7 linked regions of the Homo sapiens genome follow. The protein of the gene in region 2 interacts with the protein of the main gene of each other region in a biochemical or structural test. Each region holds a gene or a part of one and is shown on either strand. Other genes may lie near its edges.

Region 1 (3,500 bases), on a different chromosome or scaffold from region 2:
ATAAACTATCACTGGCCTATATCTTGGCCATATGAAAAATATATAAACACTTATTTTTATAAACTATGTTTTATCAAACAAAAATAATCATCATTATTACCACTGACACATGGATCTAACATAAACATTGGTAATTAAATAAGAATTGCAGAAAATGAGGTTTAAAAGCTTCCTTATTTTTATTCTTTTATTAAATTCCTCTGAAAATGATATGCAAAAGCTATTGTATTCTCCATGCTTGGTATGAGAATCAAGCAGAAAGATCTTCTATATGCCATATATTGCATTGGGAAAGCCAAAAAGCCAGCAGCTCAGGGAAATGAGAGTAGGAAAATGGTAAGAGACTTGCAATTACCCTCTTTTCAGTGTTGAGCACATCATTTAAATGAGATGCTTCACTGGAGAGATAAAATAAGCTAAGACTAGTCTTTTATTCTGTGAATTTAACTAGAGATAAAGTGAGTCTCTTATGTTCATAACGATAAAGTTAAGGTTTCCAACAGAGAATTATAAGCACCTAATTCTTTACTTTTTCAAGGACAAATGAAAAACATTTTGTTAGGAGATTTTTTTGTTATTATATATTCTTTTCAAAAAAAATGACCTTGGGACATTTTTATAAAATACATTCCAGAATAATAGAAAAGTGTTTTTCAGAAATTTTTAAAAATTCAATGCTCTGAATTGAGGTTTCCATTATAATCGTATGTGGCCATTTATCCTAGAGGAACATTTTCTATTAAAACGCAAGCTTGATGCGGATTGGGACACCATCTCCCTTGTCAGCAACCTAGCAACTCAAGCGTTGCCTGGTAACAGCATTTAATAGACATGTGCCAAACAATAAAGAAACATTTTGATATGTGGAGATTCCAAAGCTGCCATAATTACCATAGACAGTCAATTTTAAGAAAGTATATTAGATTTCCTTTTCAAATAAGGCGTTTGGACTGTTGGACATTACAACTTACCCTCTCTGTAGACCCTGTTAATGTCTCTGATTTCTTTGTTAGTTCTTGATGCCAAAATCTCAATTAGAGTATCTTCATCAGTTCCAAGGCCCTAAATTTGAAGAGAAGAAAAGGATAAATGTAGAAAAAAATCTTCATGCAAGAGGATCAATGAGTTTTTGGTGTTCCAAAATTTGTTTGACTCTGTCATTTAGTAAATTTCACCCACAACATTTAATAATTACAATAAGCTCTATTACATTGCCCTAAAACAAAACAAGTTTATCATCAATATTTTGGGTAAAAATAAAAATGCAAATATATGACTCATATAGTGACATGACATGGAAGGTGTTAGTGCCAACATTTCTGTTTTCATTTATATATTAATTCCTTCATTGAGGTATTAATTTATTTATTCTTCAAACTCCCACTGATTGACAGGTACTATACTAGATTTTGAAAATAACATAAGCATAAGTGACTTGCCCAATACATCCTCTTGAGGAAAGGAGTTTGCTCAAATTGGGCGATTTACCTTCATGGCAGCACGAAGTTCATCAGCATCAAATTGCGCTGGAGTTTTTAGCAGAGCTAAAACAACCTCCTCAAGGTGACCTGTAAGGGCTTTCTTCAGTGTTTCATCCAGGGGCTACAAAAAAAAAGATTAGAATCAGGACTTCCAATAAGTAACATGCTAGGTTAAAAAATGTGATATTACCTGACTTTAGGTCATCGTACAACTCATCCCTAAACCCAACCATCTTTTAGAGCTTCTTCCCTTCACATACAAAGTGTACCAAATATTTTGAAACATTATCTTACCCTTCCAGATCTAGAGGGATTAAAATAAAATTTACTGAATTCATCAATAACTTCTTAAAGCATAGGGTTAGTAATCTTATACACAGGGGAGAAATCACAAAGATCAAAACACAGAGGACTGTGTGCTAACAGAAAACAGAAGTAAAATTACTTTTAAAATAATATATTCATGTTTCCAATCTTTGAGGTTTGTACTTCTCAAATAACAAGCAGTATAATCAGATACTGAAATTATATAGTTTTCTAATTTCATTGCTTTAGAAAACTACTCATATTTGGTATAAAAGACATAAGGCTTATTTTTAAAGTAGAATTATATATAAAATTTAGGCATTAAACAGTTCAGTTTAAATATTAGTACATTTCAATCAGACCATATTCTTTATTGACAGCAGCAATCTCGATGTTTACGTTCAAATTAAAAATTTGTCCCCAGAGCACCACATCTGCAAACAATATACACCAAGATGACTAATGTATAAAAATAGGAAATTTGATAAAATTGATTAAATTGCAACAAAGTGGATAAACACTGCAATCCCAATCATAGATGTAATGAGAAAACAGTGGTTAGAACCTTAAAGAACTAGGTAACTGTGCTTCCGAATCCATGGTTAAGTATAACTATGCTGAAATTAAATATCTAAATTTACCACTCTAACTTACCTTTCCTGTTTCCTGGAGATATGCTGCTTTGATCTGTTGACGCTGTGCATTGTTTCGCTTAGTTAGAATGTCAATGATGGTTGCTTCATCCACACCTGGAAATAAAGGGCCAACAGCCTTTAACACCAATTTTCTTCATCATCAATTGACATAAAATAATTCATTACTGAGATGCTCCAAAAGAACTTCTTAACAAATTAAGAAATATAAATTATATATCAGCCTAAAAAATCGATGCTATACTACATATCAAGGAAGCACTTGGGAGAATGACATTTCATTCGAGTGAGAAAGGAAGAGACAATTAACTTTTCCTGGCCCTCAGTGTTGCAGTGTTTGATACTAGTTGCAACTCTATATGTGAACAGAGCTTTTAATTTCAGCATGGAATTTCTGCTAGAAATGAGCCAGTAATATCTGCTGTAACAATAGAGATTCCACTGATGTGAACACAATTTCCTCAGTGTTAAGTAAATAATTACATCTTCGTTTGGCAAAGAAATGTTTTTATCTTCAAAATGAAACAGATTCTTTCCATTGCACATGTCTGTTTTTTGACAGTCATTCAAATAGCCATTCTGAAATGTCCAGGAGGGAACTGTTTTGAGGAAACACGTTACCTTTAACCATTATGGCCTTATGCAAGGCAGCGACATCCGAGGATGGATTGAAGGTAGGATAGGGGCTCACCGCTGATCCGGGACCACCTTTGGATGACTTCACAGTTTGCTAAGAATGAGAGAGAAATAAATTAATGGCCATTTACTTATATTCGTTTTTATTTCAATATTGTAATCATAATTTTATTATCACTCTACTTACAACATATTCCTGCTCTTCATTTTCAATAAACCAGGCCTGCTTGAGGAATTCTGATACCATTGCCATTTTTGAAAAAGTGTCTGGAAAGAAAACAGTTAGATGCTTTTACAAAACAAATGCACCACACACAACCTCTCCTTCCTCACCTCTTACATACATAAGAGTTAGCATTAGAGAGTAGCCTTGCGCTTACTTTCCAGGATCAATTACACTTAGGAGCATAACAAAATGTAAGAC
Region 2 (3,336 bases):
GCTTTAGATTTCCAAAGAGGGAATGATGTTGCCTTCCACTTTAACCCACGCTTCAATGAGAACAACAGGAGAGTCATTGTTTGCAATACAAAGCTGGATAATAACTGGGGAAGGGAAGAAAGACAGTCGGTTTTCCCATTTGAAAGTGGGAAACCATTCAAAGTAAGTTATTGCTACTATTATATATTGATAATGTATATTTCTCATGAGGAATCACTCTAAAACCCCAAAGCACTTGAAGTGAGAGTTTTTATCACCTCTCCTAAGGTGCCTAACCAGTTTATCTTCTCCCTGCCCAGGGGACCAGGCTCAGCAGGCTGAGAACATGGCCAGGAGTGGCACACTCCCCAGTTCCTTTCAGGCACCTCTCCATCATCACTGCTGCCACCCCTCTGAGTTTAAGCCTTTCTAGAAATGAAAAGAATATAATCTTTAACAAAAAAGGCAAAAAGTCTTTATGGTACAGTTATACTGCGACTTTGTTGCTTAAAACACAGTTGGCAGAGAGATGAAAACTAAAGGTTTTTTATTCTAAAATTAAAGTTTTATGAAAAGTTTATAAATTTTTAAATTAACAAAGTTTCCTATCTTTTACTCCTTCCCCCATCCTCACAAAGTTGCAATTCGATGAGTATCTTCCCAGTATTTTCTGACATACAGCACGCTTTTTATTTGTAAGCACTGCTTCAACAAATTAGATCCACAGCATTTAGGGTTGACTATAGAGTGGTGAATAAAACAGCTGGAGTGTAAACTCTTCAACAACAGGGACAAATAAGGACCACAGTCTACATTTGGTGGATATCTTTTCGTATCAGAATATTGTTACTTAATAGCACTTTTTTTTTTTTTCGAGACAGAGTCTCGCTCTGTCGCCAGGCTGGAGTACAGTGGCACGATCTTGGCTCACTACAACCTCCGCCTCCTGGGTTCAAGCGATGCTCCTGCCTCAGCCTCCCAAGTAGCTGGGATTATAGGCGTGCGCTACCATGCCCAGCTAACTTTTGTATTTTCTGTAGAGACGGGGTTTCACCATGTTGGCCAGGATGGTCTTGATCTCTTGACCTCGTGATCCGCCCACCTCAGCTTCCCAAAGTGCTGGGAGGATTACAGGCATGAGCCACCATGCCTGGCCAGTAGTATTTCATTTTTAGATATGTGATAATTTAACCAGTACCCTACTGATGAAAATTTACAGAATAGAAACACTCCAACCTGGAAAGATTTTACTAAAATACTGTAATAACTATCCTTACAAATCTTTGCTTCCTAGAAGCAAGTCTTCTAGAAATCTTTGCTTCCTAGAAGCAAGTCTTCTAGAAATCTTTGCTTCCTAGAAGCAAGTCTTCTAGAAATCTTTGCTTTAAATATACATGTTTACAATTTAGATATTGTCAAATTGCTGCTTCCAAAAAGATATAGGAATGAACATCCACTATTGGGAAGAGTAGATTTCTCCTACCCTTGCCAAAACTGATTATCATCAATCCTTACAACATTTGCCAGAGGAATCCTATTTTCGTGTTTTTCTTTTAGGTGTTTTAGACCATATCAGAACTTTTGGTTGTTTTGAGACAGGGTCTCACACTGTCACTCAGGCTGGAGTACAGTGGCATGGTCACAGCTCATTGCAGCCTGTCAACCTCCCAGGCTCAAACGATCCTCCCACTTGAGCCTCCTTAGTAGCGGAGACCACAGATGTATGCCACCCACGTGTGGCTAATTTTTGTATTTTTCTTGTAGAGATGGGATTTCACCATGTTGCCTGGGCTGGTCTCAAACTCCTGGGCTCAAGATCCGCCCGCCTTTGCCTCCCAAAGTGTTGGGATTACAGGCGTGAGCCACCACACCCAGGCTCTTTTAAGTTTTTATGCAGGCAAATCTTTAGCCTCCACCTTTATGGCTTCACTTATGTATCCTTCTAATAAATTTGCTGCTTTAAAAAAAAAACCTGAATAACTTGGAATTTTTTTGTTGTTGCTTTTTGTTTTTTTGAGACGGAGTCTCACTCTTTCGCCCAGGCTGGAGTGCAGTGGCACTATCTCGGCTAACTTCAAGCTCCGCCTCCTGGGTTCATGCCATTCTCCTGCCTCAGCCTCCCAAGTAGCTGGGACTACAAGGTGCCCGCCACCACAATCAGCTAATTTTTTGTATTTTCAGTAGAGATGGGGTTTCACTGTGTTAGCCAGGATGGTCTCGATCTCCTGACCTTGTGATCCACCCGCCTCAGCCTCCCAAAGTGCTGGGATTACAGGCGTGAGCCACCCCGCCCAGCATAACTTGGCATTTTTGCTGTAAAGTTACTTTCTCTGGATCTTAACTGGTCCCACAAATGATAAGGATGAAATGTTGGACATCCTGGGCTCAGGCCAGACTGGTTTGAAATTAATGGACATTTTTTCCCTTTATTTCAGTTGACAAAAAATTGTTTCTATAGTGCAGATGAAATATGTATATATTGTGGAATGCCTAAATCCAGCTGACATATGCATTACCTCATGTAACAGTTTATGTATATGCCATTTCAGATACAAGTACTGGTTGAACCTGACCACTTCAAGGTTGCAGTGAATGATGCTCACTTGTTGCAGTACAATCATCGGGTTAAAAAACTCAATGAAATCAGCAAACTGGGAATTTCTGGTGACATAGACCTCACCAGTGCTTCATATACCATGATATAATCTGAAAGGGGCAGATTAAAAAAAAAAAAAGAATCTAAACCTTACATGTGTAAAGGTTTCATGTTCACTGTGAGTGAAAATTTTTACATTCATCAATATCCCTCTTGTAAGTCATCTACTTAATAAATATTACAGTGAATTACCTGTCTCAATATGTCATTTAATTGGAGTGGTTTATTCTAGATAATGCACAATGGAAAAAATATGTAGCAATATTAATACTGCATTGGGGCCTCAAGGTTTCCTATACTTGTTAAAATATTTTTCTTAAGGAGAAAGTAAATATTACCACAAAATTATCTCTTCCAGAATTTCATAAAAATCAGCTGTTTCAAGAAAATTATTCTCTCATTTTCTTAAGGAAATATAACATGTTCAGGAAATCAGAATAGCATTAAGAAAAAGTTAACCTATAGATGACCTATGACCCATAGACAATTATTGTTAGGATTCTGGTATATTTCTTGACGGCTTTTTAATCCTATTTTCTCCTTCTATAGTTCACTGCTTTCAAATCAGTAATTTGATACCAATATAGGACCATCTCCCTGGTTTTTATGAAATCTCTTATGGAGAAAAAGGTATCTTATATAGTCGGCTTTCAAAATTTAATTGTTCCCATCGTCAACATTCTTGCCCATGCCTTTCTACC
Region 3 (3,500 bases), on a different chromosome or scaffold from region 2:
AAAGGCAAGAAGAATAAAATGAAGATGCAAAGCAGGAAGCAGTGAATGAGAAAAAGCTGTAACAGGCAGAAAGTAGCTACCCATGGCTCTAATACTAAGACCCAAGAATATGTAAATAAACAATTATTCCACCAAGAAAGAAGGAGCAAGAGGAAAGCACGAAGACAAACAAAATATAAAGAATATCTTACACTCTGAAGGTTACAGAATATCACAAGCTACATCATGCCTCAAATTCACAACCACACTATTCATTCTATGCAGAAAATAGCTGCTAGAATTTCAACCTCAGTTCAAGTCCCTCCATCAAATCTCTCTAGGCTTGATACCTTGTAATCTGCGACCTACACACATACAGACCAGAGCCCAGACCCCCAAAACCAGTTCAAATATCAATTGCTACAGTATGTTAAATGATTCTGCTCTAGAGAAGAGAGTGAAAACAAAGAAGGGCTGGTAATACATCATCTCTAAGAATTTAGCTTGGCGTAAGTGTGCCTGTGACTAAGCTGGGTAAGAAGCACTTGGCAAATTCCCAACACAGCATCAGAGACGAGAGGTGCCTAATGAACAGTGGTTCTCAACTGGGAGAGCACTGTGTTCACCCTGGGGCTATCGTGGCAATGTCTGAAGAAATTTGGGGTTGTCACATCTGGGGTGGTGCTGCTGACATCTAGTGAGCAGAGGCCAGAGACGCTGCTAAGCATCCTACAATGTACAGGAGAACCCCACGCAGCAAAGAATTATCCAGCCAGAAATGTAAATAGTGCCAAGACTGAGAAAGAAAGAACAACATCACTGGATACAACAGAACTTCTCCACAGCATCAAATAAACTTTTAGACAACCCTTTATAAATAAAAATGGGACTTTCCCTTGCATTTGTACTCTGAATTATCTTACGCTTTACTCCATACCTCTAAACAGTTTAATAGGGGATAGGCACTATAGCGCCAAAGGAATGTTTTCTCTTGTCCCTGCAACGATGGTAGTCTGATGTCCCAGAAAGGAAGGAAAGTTAGTTTCTCTTTTCCTTGACTCTCAGATCTGGGCTCCTTCACAAGCCTTACCTGCAGCAGCTCCATTGTTGACCCCTGACATCGACGCTCCAGATCCGAGATGAGCTCTCGCAGCGACTGGGTCTGGTGGACCAGATCATTCTCAGCCTCTTCTATAATTCGTAGCCCCTTCTTCTCTTCCTGTTCCAGCTTTTTCAGCTCCCGTTGCTCCACTCTGTCTAGGATATTTCGCAGCTGATTAAACTCTGTCTGGATCCTGCATCTCTCAGGCTCCATCTGATTCTTCAGGAACAGGGAAGAAAAAGAGGCTGCTAGTCGGTCACACTGAGGGTCTCCTCTATTAAAAGCGGGGAAGTTGGGCTCAGGACTGCTTTCCTGGGCCAAGCCTCCCAGGGAGAGGGAGGGTAAATGCTGCAGGAGAAAGCCTTTGTAGCCTGTTCTTTCCTTCTTTTCTCCCTTCAGCTCTGCCCAGACCATTGGCCCCGGGCTGCTTTATCTAGGCCATCTAGACATCAACTGTGATTCCTGGGTGACGTTTAGATTCCAGGAAGCCTCCCTCACCTCTGCATCAGCCTCCTCTTCCAATTTCGAGTACTGAGGTGGAAATCACTGGCCTGTGACTAACCTGTCTCAGATCTGGGCTTCTTCACAAGCCTTACCTGCATTTTCCCTTGCATTTGTACTCTGAATGCAAGGGAAAAGCCAAAGAGACTGAAACTGTAGAGCAAGACCCAGAATTATGAATTGGGGCGACCCCTAGCCATGGTTCCTCTGCTATGTGATTGTCTCCTAGGTTCAGTTTTGATATATTTGCTATTTACCTCCTCTCCTCCCCCTGTTTGGAAGGAATATAGTGGAGGACCAGGCAAAGGGAAGCTCTTCTAGTCATGGCATCAGAGGACAGACAGGACAAGGACTCCTTTGCCCTCAGCTCCTATGACCTGCCATGATTCCTGCCCCAGGACATCTTCAGAAAAAGTCTCCCTTGCCTTCCAGGATGTTTTCTTCTCTCTGATAAAAGCTGTTAGCTTCTCAGCTTCCTGCTCCTCGTTCTTCAGCTTCTTTAGAGACTCCTGAAACTTCTCCTTGAAGAAAACAAATCAGGTCAAGCAGGATCAAGCCTTCAGTTGACTCAGTACCCAGACATAGAATGAATGGGACAGAGATTCTGCTAACCTCAAAAGAAGCCTGTCCTAACCTAGGATGAAAACTTGAGAGGGCCAACAAATCTTTTATATATATACATGGGATGAAAACCAACAGGGATAGGCTGATTCTCCATCCCCCTTGGGAAGGTGCCTGACCACAAAGCACCTGTGGCTCACGCCTGTAATCCCAGCACTTTGGGAGGCTGAGGCGGGTGGATTGCCTGAGCTCAGGAGTTTGAGATCAGCCTGGGCAACATGGCAAAACCCCATCTCTACTAAACACACACACACACGCACACACACACACAATTAGCTGGGCATGGTGGTGCACACCTACAGTCCTAGCTACTTGGGAGGCCAGGCACGAGAACTGCTTGAACCCGGGAGGCGGAGGTTGCAGTGAGCCGGGATCGCACCACTGCACTCCAACCTGGGCGACAGAGCGAGACGCCTTCTCAAAATAAATACATGAGTAAATAAATTCCTTTACCTACCCTGCCAACATATCTCCACACTCAATCAACCAAGTACCCCTTTTACCCCAAGCAGCTCTATCTACTCAATCTGGAATAGCAAGTAAATGATAAAGAATCTATTCTTAATCAGGGAGGCAGTTTCCAGGTTCATTCTCTAGGTAAATAAAGACTACAAAGAGATTAGATCAGAGCATGATAAAACGTTAAAACCTGCCAAAGACCCTGTTTCTCTGTCTCCCATTCCATCCTGGGGTCTCACCTGGTACTCCTGGGCAACCTCCTCCACGAGGAACGTGTGGTGACCACGGTGCTCCTGAGACCGCTCACAAAGCCAGCAAATGACCTTCCCATCCTCCTGACAGAAGAGCTGCAGTTTTTCTCCATGGTCTGCACAAAGAACTGCTTTCAGCTGCTTCCCAGGGCCCAACACTACCTCTCTGAGCCGCCTCACTATGTTGGCCAGATGCCGATTAGGCCGCAGGTTCCCTGGCTGGTAGCTGGTCTGGCACACAGGGCAGCTTCTTTCCCCTTCTTGACCAATCACTGATTCCCTGCCATTTGGTGTGATGCAGGCTTGGCAGAAGCTGTGGCCACAGTCTATGCTCAGGGGTTCTGTTAGGAGCTCCAGGCAGATAGGGCAGGTCACCTCTTCTCGTATGTCCACCAGTACTGGTGAAGTCATTGTAGCTACTCTCCTGGCTCCTGCCTGCCCAACCCTGATTTCTAAGATGTTTCCTGCCTGTAGAATCCTAGGTAGATGAACAAACAAAAAAAGGATCAGGGTAAGAAAGGAGGGAGAATAAGGGAATACTGACTGCCCAGTCCTGGATAAAGAGGTCAGACACCTGGGGTAACAAG
Region 4 (4,081 bases), on a different chromosome or scaffold from region 2:
AGAGATGGGGTCTCACTGTGTTGCCTAGGCTAGTATGGAACTCCTGGGGTCAAGAGATCCTCCCGTGCAGGCCTCTCAAAGCTCTGGGATTACAGGCGAGAGCTACCACGCCCTGCCCAACCTTTGGGTTTTTATTTTTTTAATTTCGTTTATAGAGATGGCGGGGGTCTCACTACATTCACCAGGCTGGTCTCAAAGTCTTGGCCTCCAGCAATCCTCCCGCCCTGGCCTCCCAAAGCGCTGGGATTACAGGCATGAGCTATCGTGCCCGGCCAGCCATTCTTTCTCTGCAGCCGATATAAAGTAGGAAAGAACACAATTTACCGGTGACCGAATGTTCTGGATTTCCAGGGCCTTCCTTCAGGTCCGCAGATGCCCCTCCATCCGGAGTGGGCCTTGCCCGGGGTTCTGTTGCCGAGTCCAGATTCGCAGCTGTCTTTTCCTCTAGAGTCAGGAGAATTTCTGGATTTGCGGGCGCCTTCTCCCCTGTAGAAATGGTGACCTCAAGGCTTCTAGGTCGCATCTTTCCCGAGGGCAGGTACACTTCGAAGGGCCTGCACTCCTTCTGCCCCGGGGCGCCCCCCGCCAGCCCCTGCAGCCTCCCCGCGGAGCTGGCGTTTCTGCGCAGCCGGACCTCGGCCTGGCCCCCCTCTAGCGCCCTGCAGGGGCCGGGGCTTCTCCCGCCCGGCAGGGCCGGGCTCCGGGTCCGAGGCTTGCCCTGCGCGTCCAGGCCCTCCGAGGCCTTCTCTCTGCGTTTGCTCAGGGGCTTCCTCGACAGCCCCCTCCCGGCCTCGGGCTGGCTGCACCGCAGGCTGGCAGCTCCGCCCCCGTACGGCCGAGGGCCGTTCCCCTCGTTCCCCTCGGGGTGGTCTGGAGTCTTCAGGCTCCTGGGCTTGTTCTCCCCCAGGGAGCTGGACGCTGCGGAATCATCTGTGCCGTTTTCTTGTGTGGAATATTCTGGAAGGACAACCAGATGCAAAATGATGAAGCTGTCCCACGTTTAGGGCCCAAGATTCAGGGCAGAGGAGAGAGAATCCCCTTGGATATTAAAGTTTAGAAATTGAGGAAAACAACGGGCCGGGCGCGGTGGCTCATGCCTGTATTCCCGGCACTCTGGGAGGCCGAGGCGGGAGGATCACCTGAGATCAGGAGTTCAAGACCAACAGGGTGAAACCCCGTCTCTACTAAAAATACAAAAATAAGCTGAGCGTGGTGGCGCATGCCTGTAATCCCAGCTTCTCCAGAGGCCAAGGTGGGAGGATCATTTGAGGTCAGGAGTTCGAGACCAGCCTGGCCAACATGGCAAAACCCCGTTCCTACTAAAAATAAGAAACTCAGCCAGACGCGGTGGTGCGCACCTGTAGTCCCAGCTACTCGGGAGGCTGAGGCATGAGAATCGCTTGAGCCCGGGATGTGGAGGTTGCAGTGAGCTGAGATCGGGCCACTGCACTCCAGCCTGAGTGACAGAGCAAGACTCCATCTCAAAAACAAAAGTTCAGGACTTCCTAGACTAGACAATGGCAGTCAATTACCATTCAGTAAGAACATGCTTGATGTTGCTATGTATTTCTCTCTCTCTTATTTTATTTTTTGAGACAGGATCTTGCTCTGTTGCCCTGATGTGATCTCAGCTCACTGCAACCTCTGCCTCCCAGGCTCAAGCAATCCTCTCACCTCAGCCTGTTTTCTGTTTTTTCAATAGCTGAAAATACAGGTGTGTGCTACCACGCCTGGCTCATTTTTTTGTATTTTTGGTAGAGACAGGGTTTCACCATGTTGCCCAAGCTGGTCTCAAACTCCTGAGCTCTAGCAATCCACCCACCTTAGCCTCCCAAAGTGCTGAGATTATTTATAAGTGTGAGCCACCATGCCTAGCCTATATTTCTCAAATAGTACTTTTCAAACGTTTTAAGCAGGACAACTGTTTCAAATAAGATCTTACACAGGTCAGCAAAACCCAGATTATACGCTTTAAAAATAAAAATAAGCCGGGCACGGTGGCCTATGTCTGAAATCCCAGCACTTTGGGAGGCTGAGGCGGGAGGATCACTTGAGGTCAGGAGTTCGAGACCAGCCTGGCCAACATGGTGAACAGCACTGAGAAGATTCTATACCAACCCCGTTCATATGATTGCATAGCAATCCCTTTTTGCTAACCTAGAGATGTTTGTCTGACATGAGTATTAATCATAAATGTAGTGAAGAAGTCTCAAAGAACAGGTGTTCCAGCTCCTGCCTTTCGTGACCCTGACCTGCTTCTTAAAAAACCCATTAGGAGCCTGAAGGAAGTTTACTAACCCAGTTCCAAAGGCCAGAGTGAAGAAAGGGACGTTCCTGAACTAAAGTCATCTGGATTTTGGTAGACCTGAGACTCCCAATCCCCAGGTCAGAGTGAGCTGCTCTGAGCTCCTGGTCCCCTTTCCCACAAAGCAGCCAGCACTCAGCACTGGATGAGGAGGAGGCCTGGGCCCGCTTACCCTGAATGGCTGCCCTGTGGAGCTCCTCGGCCAGCAGGCGCTGGTTGATGGCCCGCAGGACCTGCAGGGTGAGCTGCACGGCGTACTCTTCCCCATAGTAGGTGACCAGCAGAGTGGCCATCTTCACCGGCCTGGCTCTCTGGATCTGGCTCCGGGGGATCCTGGAGTGCTCCTTCTGCACACTGGTGTTCTGCAGCTTGAACTTGAACTTCTCGAAGTCATAGGGCACCAGCTCCTCCAGGGTGGACAGCAGATGGTCACTAGGGGTCTTAGCCATGGTGCTGAGCAGGAGAGGCTCGAGCCAGCTGTCTGGCTTCTGGTAGGAAAAGAAGCCTCTGTCCTTGGTGAGCAAGAAAAGGCAGGTTGTGAAATAGCGGAAAAGGCACAGGAAATGCTCTGTGTCTTGGTGGGAACTGAGACTAAGGGTAAGGGTGTGTCCATGCCGGCTGTGTTCTCTTCTTACAGGTTCAGAGGATTTTCCAGCTGGGAGGGCTCCATGCCTTGGCAGACATGTGCCCCCACACCCCTCCCAAACCCTGGACCTCGCCTCCACACTAGACCACAGACAGATGGGCAAGTCTGCAAGGGAAGGTCTGGGATTGGATTCCAGACACCCCCTCCAATCTTCCTTCCTGCCAGGATCTGGGGCTGGCAGAGCGGGTGAGTGGGAACAGAGAGGACTATGCTGAGGGCCCGCCCTGCTGGTCAACTGTTCTCCTCCAGACTCGGGGTTTCAGGGACCTTCCAGAGCCAATGGCACAGGACGGGGGAAGGGGTGGGCACTGAATACAGTCCTGTGAGCTTTGCCTTTCCTGGCCCAAGAAGGCAAGTGAGGCCAGAAGGGCACTGCCAGGAGATAACTCTTGCCATGCCATCACCCCTGTTGATCCGGTTCCAGTTGACTGGTTCTTCCAGCCACATGAAGGACTTGAAAAGCAATGCCTGGACCACCAGCCTGACTCATCTGTTCCCAGAGCTGACTCAGTCCTCGCTCCCTGGAGCCAGAATGCTCTTCCGTGCACATTCATTGAACATTCTAGACAGTGTGCCAAGATGCTGGAGCTACACGGGTGAAAAGGCACGGGTGTCCTTCAGCTCATATGTGGTGCAGGGCCCCAGAGGTGGCTTTGAAGCTAACAGAAGTTACATGTTGGGGGCAGGGCACAGTGGCTAACGCCTGTAATCCCAGCACTTTGGGAGGCCGAGGTGGGTGGATCACCTCAGGTTGGGAGTACAAGACCAGCCTGGCCAACACAGTAAAACCCCATCTCTACTAAAAATACAAAAATTAGCCAGGCATGGTGGCACGCACCTGTACTCCCAGCTACTCAGGAGGCTGAGGCAGGAGAATCACTTGAACATGGGAGGCAGATGTTGCAGTGAGCCGAGGTTGCGCCATTGTACTCCAGCTTGGGCGACAGAGCGGGACTTTGTCTCAAAAAAAATAAATAAATGAAAAATTACATGTAGGGTGAACTGACTCCTCACTTACCTACTTCTGACCGTTGCATACCCTAATTTTTTTATTTTTAGATAGGGTCTTGCTCAGTCACTCAGGCTGGAGTGCAGTAGTGGGATCTTGGCTCACTGCAACTTCTGCCTCC
Region 5 (3,500 bases), on a different chromosome or scaffold from region 2:
CACCCAGCATGTGATGGGTGCTCCCCGCCTATGGGAAGACAGGGAGAAAGGGAAGAAAGAAGAAAGGGATGGATGAATGAATTAATGAATTAAAGACAGATATCAGTGGTCCCTGCCCTAGGGGATATTACCATTCAGAAACTAGACATGCATCAAGTCATTTGAAACAATAGAAGACAGAATTTTATTTAATAAGAAACAAAGGAGCCAGACAGATCTCCTGGTTGGACAGGGATGGGGAGTCTGGGTGGCTTCAGCATCTCACTGCCTACCCTGCCATTGCCTCAGAAGAAATGGGGGTTGGGGGTGAGGAGGAAAGCAGACAGGGAAGACTTCCTGGAAGAGTGACTCTGGAAAGCTGAAGGATTCAGAGGAAGCTGTTGGGGCCACTGACTGAGCTCTTAGTGTACAGTCTCCAAAGCCAAGGGCATTGAGCTGAATGAAACAGCAGCAGCAGAAGGGCAAAAGGGCTTCGGGTTGGATTTAAAAATATTTTTTATTATAATTTTTTAGAGACGAGGGTCTCACTATGTTGCCCAGGCTGGTCTCCAACTCCTGGCCTCAAGAGACCCTCCTGGCCAGGCACAGTGGCTCACGCCTGTAAACCAGCACTTTGGGAGGCCGAGGCGGGTGGATCCCCTGAGGTCAGGAGTTCGAGACCAGCCTAGCCAACACGGTATGAAACACTGTCTCTACTAAAAATACAAAAAATGAGGTGGGGGTGGTGGCAGGTGCCTGTAATCCCAGCTACTCGGGAGGCTGAGGCAGGAGAATTACTTGAACCCAGAAGGCGAAGGTTGCAGTGAGGCGAGATGGGGCCATTGCACTCCAGCCTGGGCAACAAGAGTGAAACTCCATCTCAAAAAAAAAAAAAAAAAAAAAAAAAGGAGACCCTCCTGCCTCGGCTTACCAAAGTGTTGGGATTACAGACATAAGCCAGGTCGCCTGGCCCAAGCTAGATATTGAGGACTGCCAGATGGCAACAGTAGACAAGACACCCTAGAATGGCCCATCTAGAAGGAAGTAGATACCTTCTCTGTAGGGATTCAACAAGGGGGCAAAGTGATGGGCATCTTGGGTGAGGAACCCAGCCCGCGGAATGGGAAAGGGCTGGGACACTGGCTTTACAGCTGGGTTGGGAAAGGGATCTGATCCTTGAGTCAGCCCCTGTAAAATGGGGATACAGCAGGGCACGACGTCTGTTGGTCGCCTGGCACTGGGTCGGCCACCGAGGCCGCGCCTTGGCCTCTTTGTCCCCTCTGGCCACCGGCCCCAGGGAGCCCGCTCGGGAAGCAGCGCGGCCCCAGGAGGAAGGCGGCGCGGCCGAGGCCAGAGCCGGCGGCTACTGCGACCTTCCGGCTGGCGGGCGCGTTTCATGTTCCTGCCTCACCCTGGGCTGCACGGACTCAGATCGGGAAGGGGGAGGATCCATGGTAAAGGCCACGCCCCCTCTGGGACCTCGATTCCCCTTCTGGGCGGCCGAGGGATGGGCTGCAAGGAGTCAAATCCTCTTGGCCCTGGTGGTTGGATTTGGCCCCCTCCCTCCTAGGACTTTGGCATGCTGGCTTGGTCATGTCTGACTGTCTCTGTGCTGTCCCTGTCACCAGTCCGGAAGCTTCTCCCCTGTCCCCCACGCCCAACTTCGCTCAAGCCTGCCTCCCTCCCGCAGTGGGCATGTTTCTTTCTATGCCTCTCTCCCCTTTGCTATCTTTGCTCTCCCCCGGGCTCTCCCCTTCCTACCCTCTGCTTTCTCTGTTGTAAACAACAGCTGCTCACATCTGGGGGCCACCTCCCAGACATTCCTCATGGAGGAGGCAGTGCTGGCAAGCCACCCTGCCTCCTCCAGCCCTGACCTCTGGCAGTGGGTCCCAGCTCCCTGACCTCCTCTCTCTGGTGGATATAGCTAACACTTTTAAAAGTTGAGGCTTTTGGTTGTTTGTTTTTAATTGTTTTTCCCAAATCCACAGCTGACCTGAAAACTTGAGTTTTTTAAAAATACTTTTTTCTCCAAAATAGGCCAAATCCATTTAGAGCAACTCTTGCAAACTCAACAAAGTGTGAAGAACCAACTAAATGTCTCTCCTAATCCCACTTCCCAGCCATAACCACTGTTAACACGTTAGGTTTTCTCCTGGCCCTTTTCCTCTGTCTTTAAATATTTTCAAATATATGTCGTGTAACTTTTTCAAAGACAATGAAAAGATTATCATATAAAATATTGAGTTCAGTTGTCCCACTGGACAGAGAGGCAAACTGAGCCTATGCAGAGGATCAGAGTTGGCCAGGGCTGCACATCAACCTGACTCCCACCTCTTGGTCTAGACTCTTTACTGTAGTCCTGGTGCCCTCTGGGTTCTCTCTGGTAGAGACCATTGGCTTCACCAGGCAGGACCCTGGTGAATAATGTCAAGATGAAAGGGAGAAGCAGGGCTGGGCCGCTGGGGTGGGAGACCCTGACCCACAGAGATGGACAGTAGGGACCTCCCATGGCCAGAGCCTCAGCCTGGGGTTGGAGGGAACACACTCACGTAGGCCAAGTGCAGTGGGATTCCCAGGGCCTGGAGATGCAGGAAGACACTGCTGTTTACACTGAGGACCAGAAGCACCTCTCGGGGCCAGGTGCCATTTTGCTTGGATGCCTGGAGAGTCAGCTCCAGCTGTGACGGGCCCTGGGGGACACAGAGGAGAGACACACACAGTCCAGTCAGATTTGTATAGGTTGTGCCACCCAGACAGGCAGTGATGATTTGGATGCTTCCACTCCACTCTCCCTGCCTGCTCTGTCCACCCTCACCTCCCAGTGCCCAGGGTAGTGCCTGTCCCTCTGGCCATCCTCAGGGAATTCACAATAAACAAATGAAGGAGGTAAGCCCGGCAAATCTGAAGAGAGAAAAAAAATTAGGCTGGGCACGGTGGCTCACGTCTGTAATCCCAATACTTTGGGAGGCTGAGGTGGGCGGATCACCTGAGGTCAGGAGTTGGAGACCAGCCTGACCAACATGGTGAAACCCCATCTGTACTAAAAATACAAAAATTAGCCAGGCGTGGTGGTGGGTGCCTATAATCTCAGCCACTGGGGAGGCTGAGACACAAGAATTGCTTGAACCCTGGGGGCAGAGGTGGCATTGAGCTGAGATGGCACCACTGCATTCTAGCCTGGGCAACAGAGTGAGACTCCATCTAAAAAAAAAAAAAAAAAAAAGGCCGGGCATGGTGGTTCACACCTGTAATCCCAGCACTCTGGGAGGCTGAGGCAGGTGGATCACCTGAGGTCAGGAGTTCGAGACTAGTCTGTCCAACATGGTGAAACCCCGTCTTTACTAAAAATACAAAAAATTAGCCAGGTGGGGTGGTGGTGGATGCCTGTAATTCCAACTACTTGGGAGGCTGAGGCAGGAGAATCTCTTGAACCCAGGAGGTAGAGGTTGCAGTGAGCTGAGATTGCGCTATTGCACTCCAGCCTGGGCAACAAGAATGACGCTCCGTCTCAAAAAAAAAAA
Region 6 (3,500 bases), on a different chromosome or scaffold from region 2:
CAGGCAGATGGGGCAGGTCACCTCCTTCTCTATGTCTACCTTTACTGAGAAATCCATTGCACTGCTCCCTTGGCTTCCTTCTGTCTTGACTCTTGAAGTTCTTGGTCACAAACTCCTGCAGTGCTGAGAATGTTGAAGGGGACAGGGTAAGAAAAGAAGGAATAGAAAGAATACTGCTTTTACAGAGATTTAGAACAGGACAAAACATTAATATTTAACAGAGAAAGGAGAAAAGAAAGGCATGAAGAATAAACCAATGACAGAATAAAATGGACTTTGTAGTAATTTCAAACACTTTATTCTTAATTTTTGTCTCAGGACAAATTTCACCCCATCAAGGCAATTATTGTTATTTTCTCTTCTACTGGAGAGGACAAACTGAGGCTCTTCTACCAAGAGCTTCGTGTAACCCATCATTTGTCCTGCCTTTTGTTCCCCAACCCAAAACACATTTTCCATGTTAAATGCACTAAACACACCCCTGCCCCTGGGCTTGCACACAGGCTTTTCTCTCTGAATGGCATGATTGTATCCCCAATATTTGCATGATTCATGAATATTTGCATATTTTTAAGCTATTGAATTGTATTTACATAGCATCAAACACTGCATCAAACATCATTTTTAAGTGTATCATGCAATAATTTCTAGTAAATCTGTGGAACTATATAACTATTACTGTAACCCAATTTAAAATTATTTTTATCACCTGAAAAAAAAAAACCCTAATGCCATCACTCCTATTCTGATCCCAAGCTCCAGGCAACCACTACTAATATCCTTTGGGTTTTTAATCAGTTGATAAAAATAGAATCATAATATATGTCTTTGGTGTCTGAATTATTTTACTTATACTGTTAAGGTTTATCTCCTCTGACTTTTTTCCCCATGTAAAAAATACCTCCTCAATTAAACTATCAAATCTATGGCTCCTCAAGGCTTTTGCACTTGCTCCTCTCTCTGCATAAAATGATCCTCCCCCTGATGTTAGCAAGACTCACTCTTACATTTAATTCAGTCTCCTCTTAGAAGTCCTCTTCTTAGAAGGACATACTATAATTTACTTATAGCAAAACCACCAGTACTGTCACTCACTGCACATTTAGCTTCTTATTTTTACTATGTAATATATAAGATTGTTCTTTAAATGTCTACTTCTTCCTCCTGAAAAGTAATCCATTCATAGACCTGGGACTTTTTTTGTTCACTGATATGTCCTCTATACCTAGAAAAGTGAATCACATACAGGAATAAAACATTTAACGAATATATAAAGCCACAACTTCCTTATCCCTCCATAGATGATTAGACCTTTTAATCAGATTTTCATCTTTTCTTTCCATCAATTAGCAGTTTCCCAATAGCTGACCTTTGGGACCACAATTATGGTTTCCAGTGAAGAAGTGTTTACATCCTAACACATCTACCCATAGCAAGTCCTCCCATGACCTCACACTCCATCCCCAAAGACATACACACACACCCACACACCACCACCACCAACACCATAATAGGAAAATAATTTTATCATGAACAATTTTATAAGCAGTTACAATTTAGAAATCATTTTGACTTCTTTATTCTTCATACAAAACCCTTGAGAAATAAGAATACTCCCTTTCTTCAGGTGTGTCAATAGAATCAAGTGACTTACAAAGATCACTCATTCTAATCTAATAGGTAGAGTAAGAGTGAATGTATTGTCCCCAAGGTCCTCCTTCAGAGTTCTCTCCACTGCAGCACAGATTTATACAGACAACAAAGGTAAAGGCTACAAGAGCTATACTGATACCCAGTGCTATTGGGGGTATAGAAATGGAGAGATCCAGACCAGCTATGTAGTTCTGGGGCATGCTGTGGTTTTAAATGTTGAAATTTCACCTTGGCCTGGACATATGGCAAGGATGGTGATAGGAACCTAAAGATGTATATATTTTGGGAAGAGGAAAAGAGGCTAAAATAGTTATAGGATCACACACATGATATAGACTCAATATACATTTCAAAGAAACATCTGTTGGTCATGGGAGAAAAGTCTCAATCCATAAAGGAGGCCAAGTACATTGAGAATATGTAGCAGAGAGATAAAGTCTGTCCTGTTTCTCCCCAAATGATGTTGAAATCCTAATGTGTGAATGTGCTCTTATTTGAAACTAGTATATTTAAATACTATTTAGTTACCATGTGCTCATTAGGGTAGACCCTTATCCAACATGACTGTGTCCTTATCAAAAAGGGACATTTATACACAAGGAATATGCCAGGGTGAAGAAGAAAGCAGAGATCAGGGTGATGCACCTATAAGCCAAGGAATGCTAAAGGTTTCCAGGAAACTATTAGAAGCTAGAAGAGAGGCATGGACCAGAGGCCTCCTTCATAGCCTTCAGAAGGAACCAGCCCTGTCAACACATTTTATCTTGGATAACTAGCCTCCAGAATTGTAAGGCAATATATTTCTGCTATTTAAGCCAACCACTTTTGGTACTTTTTCTATGACAGCTCTAGAAAACTAATACAAGTGCTTATTTTTCTTGATTTATTCATTCTTTTTTTTTTTTTTTTTTTTTTGAGACGGAGTCTCACTCTGTCACCCAGGCTGGAGTGCAGTGGTGCGATCTCGGCTCCTTGCCAGCTCCGCCTCTCGGGTTCACGCCATTCTCCTGCCTCAGCCTCCAAGTAGCTGGGACTACAGGCGCCCGCCACCACACCCGGGTGATTTTTTGGTGTCTTTTTAGTAGAGACGGGGTTTCACTGTGTTAGCCAGGATGGTCTCGATCTCCGGACCTCATGATCTGCCCGCCTCGGCCTCCCAAAGTGCTGGGATTACTGGCGTGAGCCACCGCGCCCGGCCTATTCATTCTTTATTCTAACATTGAAGAAATGTAGCCCCATTGAAACCCTTCCGACCTAAGACAGGTAGACAGACAGACACATAAACAAAATGCATGCTCCCCTTTGAAGGTGGTGCGAATGTAGAAGTTTCTATGACACGGTGAAGGCTAACTAGGTCCGTAGCTTCCTTGTTTCAGAATACTCTGATTACCTGCACAGAAGCTTTCTTTATCTGTGCAATTTAAATCAAAAAAAAAAAAAAAAAAAAGATGGCCAGGCGCTGTGGCTCAAGCCTGTAATCCCAGCAGTTTGGGGGGCCGAGGCGGGCAGATTACCTGAGGTCAGGAGTTTGAGGCCAGCCTGGCCACTATGGTGAGACCCCGTATCTACTAAAAAATATATATATATACAAACATTAGCCAGGTGTGACAGCAGTTGCTTGTAGTCCCCGCTACTCTGGAGGCTGAGGCAGGAGAATCACTTGAACCCAGGAGGCGGAGGTTGCAGTGAGCTGAGATCACACCACTGCACTCCAGCCTGGCAACAGAGCAAGACTCCGTCAAAAGAAAAAAAAAAAAAAAGATTAAATTAAATTAGTGTGGCTACACAATAAGGAGAAAAATTATAAGGGGTTTAGCCATCAATATCTTTTTTTTTTTTTTTTGAGA
Region 7 (4,148 bases), on a different chromosome or scaffold from region 2:
TCCCAGCTTTCTCCAGGCATAGGGTGCATGGGAATAGATACTTTGGGTGCCTCATTAAACCCTTCCCTCTTAACCAATCTGATTTCTTAACATTGCTTATTAAATCATTTTTCGGCTGGGTGCAGTGGCTCACGCCTGTAATCCCAGCACTTTGGGAGGCCGAGGTGGGCGGATCACCAGGTCAGGAGATCGAGACCATCCTGGCCAACATGGTGAAACCCCGTCTCTACTAAAAAAATACAAAAATTAGCCGGGCATGGTGGTGTGCACCTGTAATCCCAGCTACTCGGGAGGCTGAGGCAGGAGAATCGCTTGAACCCGGGAGGCAGAGGTTGCAGTGAGCCAAGATTGCGCCATTGCACTCCAGCCTGGGCGACAAAGCAAGACTCCATCTCAAAAAATAAAAAATAAAAATCATTTTTCAAATTCTTCCTATACCAACTCTCACTCTCACCCTCTGCCATCATTCTCCAGCCAGTTCAGTAGTAACTTGTCTAGCTGAAATGTAAACCATCATGGTGAAATTAAGCTCATTAATGAATGCAGCTGCCTAGTTAACTAATATCACTCATTATATTATCCAGGTATTATTTTAGTACAAATGGCATTGTACAGTAAGCCATCCTTCCTCTTTTTCTTTTTTCTTTTTTTGAGATGGGGTCTTGCTCTGTTGCCCAGGCTGGAATGCAGTGGTGCAATCTTGGCTCACTGCAAACTCCGTCCCCTGGGTTCAAGCGATCCTGGTGCCTCAGCCTCCCAAGTAGCTGGGACTACAGGCACCCACCACCACGACTGGCTAATTTTTGTATTTTCAGTCGAGACAGGGTTTCACCATCTGGTCTCAAACTCCTGACCTCAAGTGATCCACCCACCTCGGACCAGGCTGGTCTCAAACTCCTGATCTCAAGTGATCCACCTGCCTCGGCCTCCCAAAGTGCACCCAGCCACTCTTGGTTTTCGTTAAAGAAAGTAACTAATTAAATCTCCAGGTGAAGACGTGGCCTTAATTGGTTGAGATTCCTATTTAACCCGTCCATGTTGATGAATTAAACCAAATATTAAAATCCCTGATTAAATTATCTACTTAGGGAAATTTACAAGTCATTCTATTTCAGTGGTTCTCAAACTTGAGTGTGTATGGAAATTACCTGGAGCATCTGCTAGAACAGATTCCTGGGCCTACCCCCCGAGTTTTTGACTCAGTAGGTCTGGAGTGGGGCCTAAGAATTTGTTCTAGGTTCCCAGAAATCCACATTTTGAGAACTCCTGCATTTAGTTAATAATATGCCTGATAGTTAAGGTCTCTCAGTTCATTAAAAACAGTTTCGGCCGGGTGCAGTGGCTCACGCCTATAATCCCAACACTTTGGAAGGCCAAGGCGAGTGGATCACCTGAGGTCAGGAGTTTGAGACCAGCCTGGCCAACATGGTGAAACCTCGTCTCTACTAAAAATACACAAGTTAGCCAGCAGTAATGGCATGCACCTGTAATCCTAGCTACTTGGGAGGCTGAGACAGGAGAATCATTTTTACCCAGGAGGTGGAGGCTGCAGTGAGCTGAGATACCGCCACTGTACTCTAGACTGGACAACAGAATGAAACTGTCTCAAAAAAAAAGTTTCACCACCAGGCGGGCGCAGTGGCTCATGCCTATAATTCCAGTAATTTGGGAGACCGAGGCAGGCAGATCACTTGAGATCAGGAGTTTGAGACCAACCTGGCCAACATAGCAAAACCCCATCTCTACTAAAAATACAAAAATGGCTGGGCGCAGTGGCTCAGGCCTGTAATCCCCGCACTTTAGGAGGCCGAGGCAGGCAGATCACCTGAGGTCAGGAGTTCAAGACCAGCCCGGCCAACATGGTAAAACCCTGTCTCTACTAAAAATACAAAAATTAGTTGGGTGTGGTGGTGCGCGCTTGTAATCCCAGCTACCTAGGAGGCTGAGGCAGGAGAATTGCTTGAATCTAGGAGGCAGAGGTTGCAGTGAGCCAAGATCATGCCACTGCACTCCAGCCTAGGTGACAGAGCAAGACTCCGTCTCAAAAAAAAAAAAAATTAGCCAGGTGTGGTCGTGCGTGCGTGTAGTCCCAGCTACTCAGGAGGCTGAGGCAGGAGAATCACCTGAACATGGGAGGCAGAGGTTGCAGTGAGCCAAAATCGCACCACGGCACTCCAGCCAGGCGACAGAGCGAGACTCAGTCTCAAAAAAAAAAAAAAAAAAGTTTCACCAAGAAATTTATCATAGATTTACTTGGATCTCTCAAACTAAAAAGCCTCACAGTGGGTGACACAGAGAGACTGTGAATTGGGGGAGTCCACTGAGTGTCACCTTTGGAGCAGTCCCACTCCTCCCTCAGAGCCGTGTGTTTCAGCCCCCACCAAGCCCGTTCCCTATAGCATCTAGTCCAGCCTCCTGGATCTCCCTCCTCCCACCCACACTCCTTGGGGTCCTGAGCGCACGCCCTGTCACCTGGATGGACCATGATCAAGATGAGCAACAGCATCCAGGCCATGTCGGAAGATGTCCCAGTTGGCGAAGGGGATCTGAGCAGTGAGGTCTGGGTGGAGGAGGAAGGACTCACTACTTGTAGCCAGGCCTTTGGTCACCAGATGGGGATGGGGAGCTTCCTATGACACACGGGACTCACACATCACTTGCCAAGGACCACAACTGCCAGGGACCTCGAGCATCAAATGCTTGCCTCCCTGAGGAGAGAGGACAGATGCTGCTGGAGGAGATGTCAGGGTCTCTAGGAGGCCAAGGGGCCAGCTTGTGGCAGGCTAGCTAAGCGTGTGAGGGGGAGGGTGGGGCTTAGATGGCTGCTAACCCAAGGGTGAGTGGGCGGTTGGGCGGGTGAGACCAGGATGTGGGTTCCCCCACCTTCCGAGGTTCAAGGAGACCAGCTTTTACCCAGAACAAGCCTCCAGGAGCCCTCCTTGGCCCAGAAGCTAACCTACTTACCCTCCCTGCTGCTCACCAGTACCCAGACCCATCCCACCCATTCCCTTCCTGGAATCTGGCCTCACTGCACCCCAGGGCTACTCCAAGATTTCTATGAGGGATTAGGAGAAGCAAGCTGATTGGTGAAGCTATATTTAATTTGCATAGCAATCACCTTGTGTGTGTGTGTGTGTGTGTGTGTGTGTGTGTGTGTGTGTGTGTGTGTGTGTTTGGTTGGGTTTTTTTGTTTTTTGTTTTTTTTTTGAGCTGGAGTCTCACTCTGTTGCCCAGGCTGGAATGCAGTGGCACAATCTCGGCTCACTGCAACCTCTGCCTCCTGGGTTCAAGCAATTCTCTTGCCTCAGCCTCCCAAGTAGCTGGGATTACAGGCGCACATCACCAAGCCCAGCTAAATTTTGTATTTTTTGTAGAGACAGGGTTTTACCATGTTGGCCAGGCTGGTCTCCAACTCCTGATCTCAAGTGATCCACCAGCCTCGCCCTCCCAAAGTGCTGGGATTCCTGTTTTGGTTTTTTGAGACAGGGTCTGGCTCTGTCTCACCCAGGCTGGAGTTCAGTGGCGCCATCACGGCTCACTGCAGCCTCAACCTCCAGGGCTCAGTTGATCCTCCCACTTCAGTCTCCTGAGTAGCTGGGACTGCAGGCGCACACCACCACACCAGGCTAATTTTTGTATTTTTTGTAGAGATGGGGTCTCCCTGTGTTGCCCAGGCCGGTATCCAACTCCTGGGCTCAAACAATCCATCCACTTAGGCCTCCCAAAGTGCATGAGTCACCATGCCTGGCGAAATGTATTTCTTAAATAATGAGACTTGAAAGTCTAAATTACTCCTTAAACCATGGACTACAGGATGGATGTTATGTTAGCAGGCAGGAAAACAACATTCAGCTGGGCGTGGTGGCTCATGCCTGTAATCCCAGCACTTTGGGAGGCTGAGGTGGGAGGATCACCTGAGGTCAGGAGTCCGAGACCAGTCTGATCAACATAGAGAAACCCCGTCTCTACTAAAAATACAAAATTAGCCGGGTGTGGTGGGGCGCACCTGTAATCCCAGCTACTCGGGAGGCTGAGGCAGGAGAATCACTTGAACCCAGGAGGCGGAAGTTGCAGTGAGCTGATATCGCACCATTGCACTCCAGCCTGGGCAACAAGAGCGAAACTCCGTCTCAAAAAAAAAAAAAAAG

What was found.
Region 1: the proteins of LGALS3 (region 2) and ANXA1 interact in a test that uses a peptide from one of them, tested with the Homo sapiens proteins (one large-scale study listed by BioGRID).
Region 3: the proteins of LGALS3 (region 2) and TRIM6 form a complex in vitro, tested with the Homo sapiens proteins (one study listed by BioGRID).
Region 4: the proteins of LGALS3 (region 2) and MEFV form a complex in vitro, tested with the Homo sapiens proteins (one study listed by BioGRID).
Region 5: the proteins of LGALS3 (region 2) and ENG form a complex in vitro, tested with the Homo sapiens proteins (one study listed by BioGRID and IntAct).
Region 6: the proteins of LGALS3 (region 2) and TRIM22 form a complex in vitro, tested with the Homo sapiens proteins (one study listed by BioGRID).
Region 7: the proteins of LGALS3 (region 2) and NCR3 interact in a biophysical measurement, tested with the Homo sapiens proteins (one study listed by IntAct).

What each region holds. Positions count from the first base shown.
Region 1 is NC_000009.12:73,158,365-73,161,864, reverse strand, and holds part of ANXA1 (annexin A1), read right to left. Parts: intron 3,344-3,500; coding exon of another isoform or gene 3,330-3,343; coding exon 3,264-3,329; intron 3,171-3,263; coding exon 3,062-3,170; intron 2,537-3,061; coding exon 2,442-2,536; intron 1,603-2,441; coding exon 1,489-1,602; intron 1,063-1,488; coding exon 972-1,062; intron 1-971. UniProt on the Homo sapiens protein: Plays important roles in the innate immune response as effector of glucocorticoid-mediated responses and regulator of the inflammatory process. Has anti-inflammatory activity.
Region 2 is NC_000014.9:55,142,588-55,145,923, forward strand, and holds the end of LGALS3 (galectin-3), read left to right. Parts: coding exon 1-162; intron 163-2,528; coding exon 2,529-2,684; 3' UTR 2,685-2,836; downstream 2,837-3,336. UniProt on the Homo sapiens protein: Galactose-specific lectin which binds IgE. May mediate with the alpha-3, beta-1 integrin the stimulation by CSPG4 of endothelial cells migration.
Region 3 is NC_000011.10:5,603,137-5,606,636, reverse strand, and holds part of TRIM6 (tripartite motif-containing protein 6), read right to left. Parts: intron 3,392-3,500; coding exon 2,902-3,391; intron 2,104-2,901; coding exon 2,008-2,103; intron 1,301-2,007; coding exon 1,070-1,300; intron 1-1,069. Other genes in the region: TRIM6-TRIM34 (tripartite motif-containing 6 and tripartite motif-containing 34), read right to left, coding at 1,070-1,300, 2,008-2,103, 2,902-3,391.
Region 4 is NC_000016.10:3,253,834-3,257,914, forward strand, and holds the start of MEFV (pyrin), read right to left. Parts: upstream 2,801-4,081; 5' UTR 2,755-2,800; coding exon 2,478-2,754; intron 958-2,477; coding exon 325-957; intron 1-324. UniProt on the Homo sapiens protein: Involved in the regulation of innate immunity and the inflammatory response in response to IFNG/IFN-gamma.
Region 5 is NC_000009.12:127,827,159-127,830,658, forward strand, and holds part of ENG (endoglin isoform 1 precursor), read right to left. Parts: intron 2,670-3,500; coding exon 2,529-2,669; intron 1-2,528. UniProt on the Homo sapiens protein: Vascular endothelium glycoprotein that plays an important role in the regulation of angiogenesis. Required for normal structure and integrity of adult vasculature. Regulates the migration of vascular endothelial cells.
Region 6 is NC_000011.10:5,692,790-5,696,289, reverse strand, and holds part of TRIM22 (E3 ubiquitin-protein ligase TRIM22), read right to left. Parts: intron 124-3,500; 5' UTR 58-123; coding exon 1-57. UniProt on the Homo sapiens protein: Interferon-induced E3 ubiquitin ligase that plays important roles in innate and adaptive immunity.
Region 7 is NC_000006.12:31,590,207-31,594,354, forward strand, and holds the start of NCR3 (natural cytotoxicity triggering receptor 3 isoform a precursor), read right to left. Parts: upstream 2,801-4,148; 5' UTR 2,516-2,800; coding exon 2,473-2,515; intron 1-2,472. UniProt on the Homo sapiens protein: Cell membrane receptor of natural killer/NK cells that is activated by binding of extracellular ligands including BAG6 and NCR3LG1. Stimulates NK cells cytotoxicity toward neighboring cells producing these ligands.